Linked DNA regions of Homo sapiens. The protein of the gene in region 2 purifies or fractionates together with the protein of the main gene of each other region. This does not show direct contact. Each region holds a gene or a part of one and is shown on either strand. Other genes may lie near its edges.

The links.
Region 1: the proteins of DMRT1 (region 2) and MECR purify together in Homo sapiens (affinity purification with mass spectrometry; one large-scale study listed by BioGRID and IntAct). This does not show direct contact.

Annotation. Positions count from the first base shown.
Region 1 is NC_000001.11:29,224,331-29,228,152, forward strand, and holds part of MECR (enoyl-[acyl-carrier-protein] reductase, mitochondrial), read right to left. Parts: intron 1,699-3,822; exon of another isoform or gene 1,422-1,698; intron 487-1,421; exon of another isoform or gene 393-486; intron 282-392; exon of another isoform or gene 1-281. UniProt on the Homo sapiens protein: Catalyzes the NADPH-dependent reduction of trans-2-enoyl thioesters in mitochondrial fatty acid synthesis (fatty acid synthesis type II).
Region 2 is NC_000009.12:963,407-966,675, reverse strand, and holds part of DMRT1 (doublesex- and mab-3-related transcription factor 1), read right to left. Parts: intron 1-3,269. UniProt on the Homo sapiens protein: Transcription factor that plays a key role in male sex determination and differentiation by controlling testis development and male germ cell proliferation.

The DNA.
Region 1 (3,822 bases), on a different chromosome or scaffold from region 2:
CCAAGGGCCAAGAGGGGGTCCTTGGTAACATCTTGTGCCCAGGATCCCAGATTTCAAACAAAATCATTGCTCCCTGGAGGCTGCTGGAACAACCATTGGTGAGCAGGCAGTCAATGCCTGTGTTACTTTCCTAGAATTGTCACAGCCGGACAATTGTTGGAGCAAAGAGGATTCACGTCTCATGATAATTTCCATGGCTGCAGTGTTATGCTGAGAAGGATGTTGAGGGCCCGTCTTGTCTTGGCAGGAAGAGCGTTGTCTGGGGAGAATGTGATAAAGAGGTGTGTAGGTTTTGAGGTCTACAGAAAGGGACTGTGAAGGTCTGCATGGGGACAGCACACATACCCATATTTACCACTGCTGACCTTGGTCACTCTCTTCATTTTATCAAGGAGTAACTGAAGATAATTGGAGACTAACGTGATTTCCTCACTGCCATAATTAGTGGCAGAGGTGGGACTGGAACACAGGCAAGAAACATCCCAAGTCACAGGTTCACCTTGTGTCATCTTTGCTTTTCCTTCTCTAAAATGAGGACCCCTCCCACCTCACCCAGGGTGGGAAAGGCCAGTTCATCCCAGAGAGCTGCTAGGAGAGGGCAAGAGACAACTTGGAGTGGCTCCGAGGGGCAGCTTTCCTCCCGGACTCTCTGGACGGAGGGAAAACCCCAGTCTTTTGTGTGATTCCTAGGGGGTGTGCCTGCAGCTTTCACCTTCAGAGGCAACAGTGAGAAAACCAGGGTAGCAGGGCTTGGCCCTAAACTCCACAGCCTAGTCTAAAGGCCAGATGGAAGGTAATGTATGAGTTATAGGATGTGGAATCCGCTTAAGCTTGAGCCCTGTGATCTAAGGGTAGTCCCCTCTGAGCTGGTTTCAGCAGACACCTTTCTCACAGGATTACATGAGTGCACAGTAGGCAGTCAACAAATACGGACTGATCACACACACCATGTTTTCTCTTCCCTCGGGGTCTCTGCACATGCAGGTTCCTCTGCTTGGGACATTTCCCCACTTTCTCTCCTCATACACTGCTCACCGGATCTCTGGAGCACTCAGTTTACACCCTGTCTCTTCAGAGAACACTCTGACTAACCCGAGGGGGTTAGGTAACCCCCTTCTGGGTGTCCACAGGACTCTGAACATATCCCATCACAGCATTTACCCCACTGGACTATGGCGGCCTTTCTCCTGGATTAGGCTGTGAGGCTCTGAGGGCAACGACCACAACAGATTCAACTCTGTACCCTCAGTGCCTTGCACTCAGTAAACTCTCAAAGAATACATGCTGGCCAACTTACTATATCAATGCCTTCTGTTCCCACTCCATTCATGACCACAATAAAGAGCTCTAAACAGAGCACCAAACCCAAAATGCTATTTTTTCCCCAAAGTACTAAAATGTGGGTTTAAAAATCAAGTCACCTGCAGTTTTGCTTTATATTAACTGTAAAAAGAAGAAATTCCTGAGAGTAAACAGTGCCCTATAGTGAGAATGGACAGACTGGGGCCCCACTACCTGCTCCTCCAAAGTCCATCTGGCTTAAGACAGAATGGGTAGGCCGGGTGCCGTGGCTCATGCCTGTAATCCCAGCAATTTGGGAGGCTGAGGCAGGTGGATCACCTGAGGTCAAGAGTTCAAGACCAGCCTGGCCAACATGGCGAAACCCTGTCTTCACTAAAAATACAAAAATTAGCTGGGTGTGGTGGCACGCGCCTGTAATCCCAGCTACTCAGGAGGCTGAGGCAGGAGAATCACTTGAACCTGGGAGGTGGAGGTTGCAGTGAGCCGAGATTGCACCACTGCACTCCAGCCTGGGGGACAGAGCCAGGCTCTATCTAAAAAAAAAAAAAAAAAAAAAAAAAAAAGACAGAACGGGTATATGTCCACGGGTTTCCAGCTCCAGCTTAGTTTCATTGTTGTACTAGCAGCAGGCAGGTGAGAAAGCCAAGATGATCAGGATGCTGTTTTACAAAAGCCTCGGGATCCTGAAAAGGGGAGGAGACAGAGAATGGTATTTCTAAACTTTCCCAGGATTGGGGCTGCCCTTTCTACAGCGTAGAAATTTGGGGTTACCTGAATGACCTACAATTTCACCTTCTCTTCTGACCTTTTTCCCAATTTTATAGTCCATCTCATTCTCAAAAATCATTTGAGACTTTGGGAGGTTGAGGCAGAAGGATCGCTTGAGCTGAGGTGTTTGAGATCATCTTGGGCAACATGGTGAAACCCCATCTATATTTTTTATTTAAAATATTTAAAAAAGTTTATTTGAAGAAATCATTTGAGGTGACTGCTGTTGTTTCCTCAGGCCTATGTCTATATCAAGGACTTTTAATAAAGAAGGGGCATCCTAGCTGTAAGATCTCGGATAAGTGCCTTTCAATCTACTTGAGCTTCAATTTCCTTATCTGTAAAGTGGAAGTAATAATAACCAAACTGGAGTGTTTTGATTTTAAAACCCCGTAATATACAGGGAGCATTTAGTCCAATGCTTGCTATACAGCAGGTATACAATAAATGAAAGCTGTTTTCACCAGAAGATCCAGAGAATGGCAAAGTTCTGAGCGGACTTTCAGGAAAAAAAGAAGGCAAGAGAAGAACTAAGCGTTTCTGGGAACTATCTTTTTTTTTTTTTTTTTTTTTTTTGAGACACAGCCTCACTCTGTCGCTGAGGCTGGAGTGCAGTGGTGTGGTGCAATCTCAGCTCACTGCAACCTCTGCCTCCTGGGTTCAAGCGATTCTCCTGCCTCGGTCTCCCGAGTAGCTAGGATTACAGGCATGCACCACTGTGCCCGACTAATTTTTGTATTTTTAGTAGAGACAGGGTTTCGACATGTGGCCAGGCTGGTCTCGAGCACCTGACCTCTGGTGATCCGCCCGCCTCGGCCTCCCAAAGTGCTGGGATTACAGGCATGAGCCACCATGCCTGGCCCCTGGGTTTCTGGGAACTATCTGATAGGGAATCTAGAACTCTGCACAAGGGACAGTGGCTATGGAGAACTCTGAAATTTCTCAAATGTTTGTCATTCTTCTGCACAGTCTTACTTTACTTAGATCTACAGTTTAATCTTTTAAATAAAAAAGGCCCAAATACTTATTTAGGGAATCCCATTTTGGAAGAAAGGGAAAGAAACTAAGCAACAGGGGAAAATGGCTTAGGAGAGAACAGCTGCAATGTTTGGAGGCCAACAGGAATGAAAACAGGGACGTGAGAACAGGAGAAACCTGGAGGCCTCCTTTTGAGGATTCAGACCTGAGAAGGCTGTTCCTCATTCCTTCCCTCCTGCTTGCAGAGGTGTGGCCCACAGCGCAAGCATCACAAACCACACTAGTTCTGACAATGCTCTGTTCAGACTCTAGGTAGTCCCATGACCCCTACCTGGTGTAACCTGACCCAGACAGCCAGTTACCAGGATGTGTAAAGGACACCTGATTCTTTCTGTGACAGTGTGGTTACCCTAAACCTTGTAAGACATGACTACAAAGAGAATCCCAGTCTCTGGCTTCAGTCCATACGAGAACAAGTAAAGCCGCCTGAATCTGGGTCAGAAAGTAAAGTTGCCCTTCTGGAGCACGGAGAGAATTACTGCTTGTCTGACAATCTGTATCCACAAGGCAGTGGTTCTCAAGCCTGGCCTGGGCAGCAGAGTCACCTGGAGAGCTTTGAAAAAAACAGAAGCTCCAAGCCATCCTAGACCTACTAAGTACCTCAGGAGTGGGGCCTAGGAATACATACGGTAGTTTCTAAAAGCACTACAGGTCAAGCTGGGTGTGGTGGTACACACCTGCAATCCCTGCTACTCAGGAGGCTGAGGTGGGAGG
Region 2 (3,269 bases):
AAATAAAAGAACAGAGCTAGGATTTAAGAAGCAGGCCCTTAACCACTCCACTGGACCACATTCTTTCAGAAGGCCCCCTTCTTCCAGTGTGACATATGGGTAGACAGATAGACAAATGGATAGTTTTGTACAGCTACCTCAATATCCAAGAAGGAAAGAGATGATCTGAAAATTCAGTAAGTGAATAAATTTGAAAAACAATTTAGGCAATTTCCTGACAAGTGGTTACTTTTTATATTGATAGATTTGTTTAGTCTTTAATAAGGTAAATAAAAAGCAAAGGATAAGTTTGTAAGCTTTAAAATATAGGAAAATATTTTTTTTTAATTTAAAGGGAGTCATTAAGTAGTATTTCATAACAAAAAAGCACGCATATGCATATATAAATATAGCAACCAAAACTAGGAATCTAGGAAATATGAAGCCTTCATCTTATTACAGTTCATAAAAGTATCTTACTAAATTTGTATTGTTATATGCATTTAAATTCCATGCAAATCCAAGGTGATTTATTAATTGTATACATGCACCTGGTTGTCATATATATGTACAGAGAAATGTTTTCCAAAGGCAGCAGACTGCTTTGAGATCTTGTTACTATACAGATCTGGAGAGCCGACTAAGAGCTTCCTGGAGTCCGTGCGTTAATGTCCCCACCCCCAACCAGTGACAGAAGTTTCTCTGTATAGAAGCTATGGAGAAGAACAGTAAACATTACTGACTACTACCTGTATGCCACACACATACTTTAGTGAGGTATTTCACCCTCAAACCATTCACTGAGAGAATTACTCTCCCCGTTTAACACAGGGATCCTGTGCAAGCTGTCAAGGGCAGCACTGTACTGATTAGGCTGACTCTGGCGTGCTCTGGCCCCTGCACCAACCTTCTCCTGGGCCCCACATTTCAGAACTGGCAGCTGAACCTTCCCAATCCCTGTGTGAGTTTAAGGAGGCAAAGCAACGGACCTTTGCCAAGCTGATGCAGAGGCTTGTAAAGGAATAGGTATGTGTTCTCCCAACATGTTCAGAGCCCTGGGCCTGTTTCCAGTTAGCAGCTGACTGGGAGATGCCCCGGGAGATGCCCTCTCCTCATTTAGCCAACTTGGGACTGAAAAGGGGAGGAGTGGGAATTTTGCAAAAGAAAGGAATTTGACAATATCCCCCTTTTGCTCTAACTTGCCTTATGAATATTTTCTTGGAAAGTGCTCTTGCGACGTGGGGCCACAAAGCATGCAGAATATTACCTGCATGGACTAGCGGGGCTCCAAGCATACTTTTAATGCATGACTGCACTCTAGAGAAAATGTAAAACTCACCCTGTTTTGAAAAACAGCCGTATTGTTTATAGTGTTTCTCCACTCAAAATTTAAACCCATGCTATTTTTACATTTGTTCAAGGCTTAGCATTGTTTTTAAATAATAGGCTGTTGAAGTTAGGGATAGTATCTGTTTAAGTATAGCCCCTCATAGAGTTCTAGGTACGTGAAAAGATTTAGTGTGTTTTTCCTTAGTGACTAATGTCCAAAATCACTTTTACTACCATCCTTAAAGATCGTCCCTCAGAGGTACCTTTTCCATTTTAATGCAGCTTCCTTAAACTTTTGGAAGGAGAAGGCTAATAGTTGACCGTTGTAAATTATTTCATACCAATTAAAAATTCAAAAATCTAAATGATGCTTTTCGCTCTTTGATTCTAAGGGGCCCTACACCAGGCTAATTTCAACTCAAAAGTCTTGTCTTAGGTCATTTTGTAAAAATGCTAACTCCTAGCGTCAGTGGCACTGTGGGGGAACAGATAGTATTGGTAGCACTAGAAATTGGTTCAATCTCTCTGGACAGCAATCTAGTGACATGTAATAAGAACCATAAAGCTGTTCAGCCCCTCTGACCTGGTAATTCCACTCTGGGGAATAACCCCGAAGAAAGGAAGAATAATTGAGCCTGAGATGCTCAACACACCGTCAGTGAAGATGTTAGTGTACTGCTCTTGTGCTTGGGGAAGGGAGTTGGGGCCAGCTGCACTGGGGTTGGGGGCAGGAAGCATTCACAGGCAATAAACAATTAAGGATTATACTACCCTATAATCATTGATAGCCTCCCAGCATTTACAGAAATAGAAGAAATTATTTCTGCACACCACAGCAGAGACTGAAAAGTAAGGAAAAGAAAAAAGGAAAACTTGCCCATCTGATATTTTTTTGTGTTACAATGAAAGGTGGGTAAACCTCCGAGGCTGACCCTTGTTTGAACCAGCAAATCTAGTATCTGTTTTCTCTCAAGAAGCCTATTTGTCTACCGAAGCTACTGGGATGTTATTTTATTATGATTTAAAAATAAACAGAAAACCTTACACAGGATCATTCTTACCAATGAGGGGAAAAAACACTTCAAGATGATTTTGATGCCATCTAACCATGAGTATTATTTTTGAAAAATATTTATACTGTCAAAAAAGAAAACCTTCTTAAAAAAAAAACCACAAAACTCTAAGTGCTAAATCTTTTGACATTGCAAAGACCCCTGACTTTTAACTTGAATGATCTGTTGGAAGTCAATGGACTGGAACGAATAATTCTCTTCCAGTGATGTGAGAAAACAGGATATTCATGCTTTAAAAACATTTTTCCTTCCTCTATATGTTAAACACTATTAAACTCCTAAGAAACCATTTTAAAATAAAATACAAGTGGCATTTTTCAGTTGTTACCAACTCTTCATCTAGATGCTGACTGCCAAGGCAGACAAACAAAATTGCTGGCCTCTTCAGTTTCCTAGACTTTGTAGGCATAAGAAAGAATCTGATGAAAAGCTGATGAAAATTTCTTAAACAACAAATTCTTCCACTTCATGATAACCATAGTGTTTGGAAATAAAATCATGTGCAATCAATACCACTTAGCATATATTTAATGTTTCACAATAGAACTCTTTTCCAGAGTGGAACTGCTGCCCTTCTCACTAACATTTAAAATAATTAGGATTATCTTAGCTGTCCGAAGCTTGGCAGGTTCAGTTTGTACTTTCAAATAGCATTAATTCTTGGCACTCAGAACAAGGGATAAAAGGTAAAGATATGAATGGAGATCTTTATTCCACCTGATCTATCATGGATTAGCTCATTCTTTTCCAGTTCATGCCTGCACTCTAGTTAAGAAGAAGGCTGAGCTGTAACTGATGTAATTAGAAACCACAAGCTGAGAAAAAAATAGCCCTTTGGTAATCTCCTCCATTTACTATAAATTTACTAAAAAAAAAGTAATGATCGTT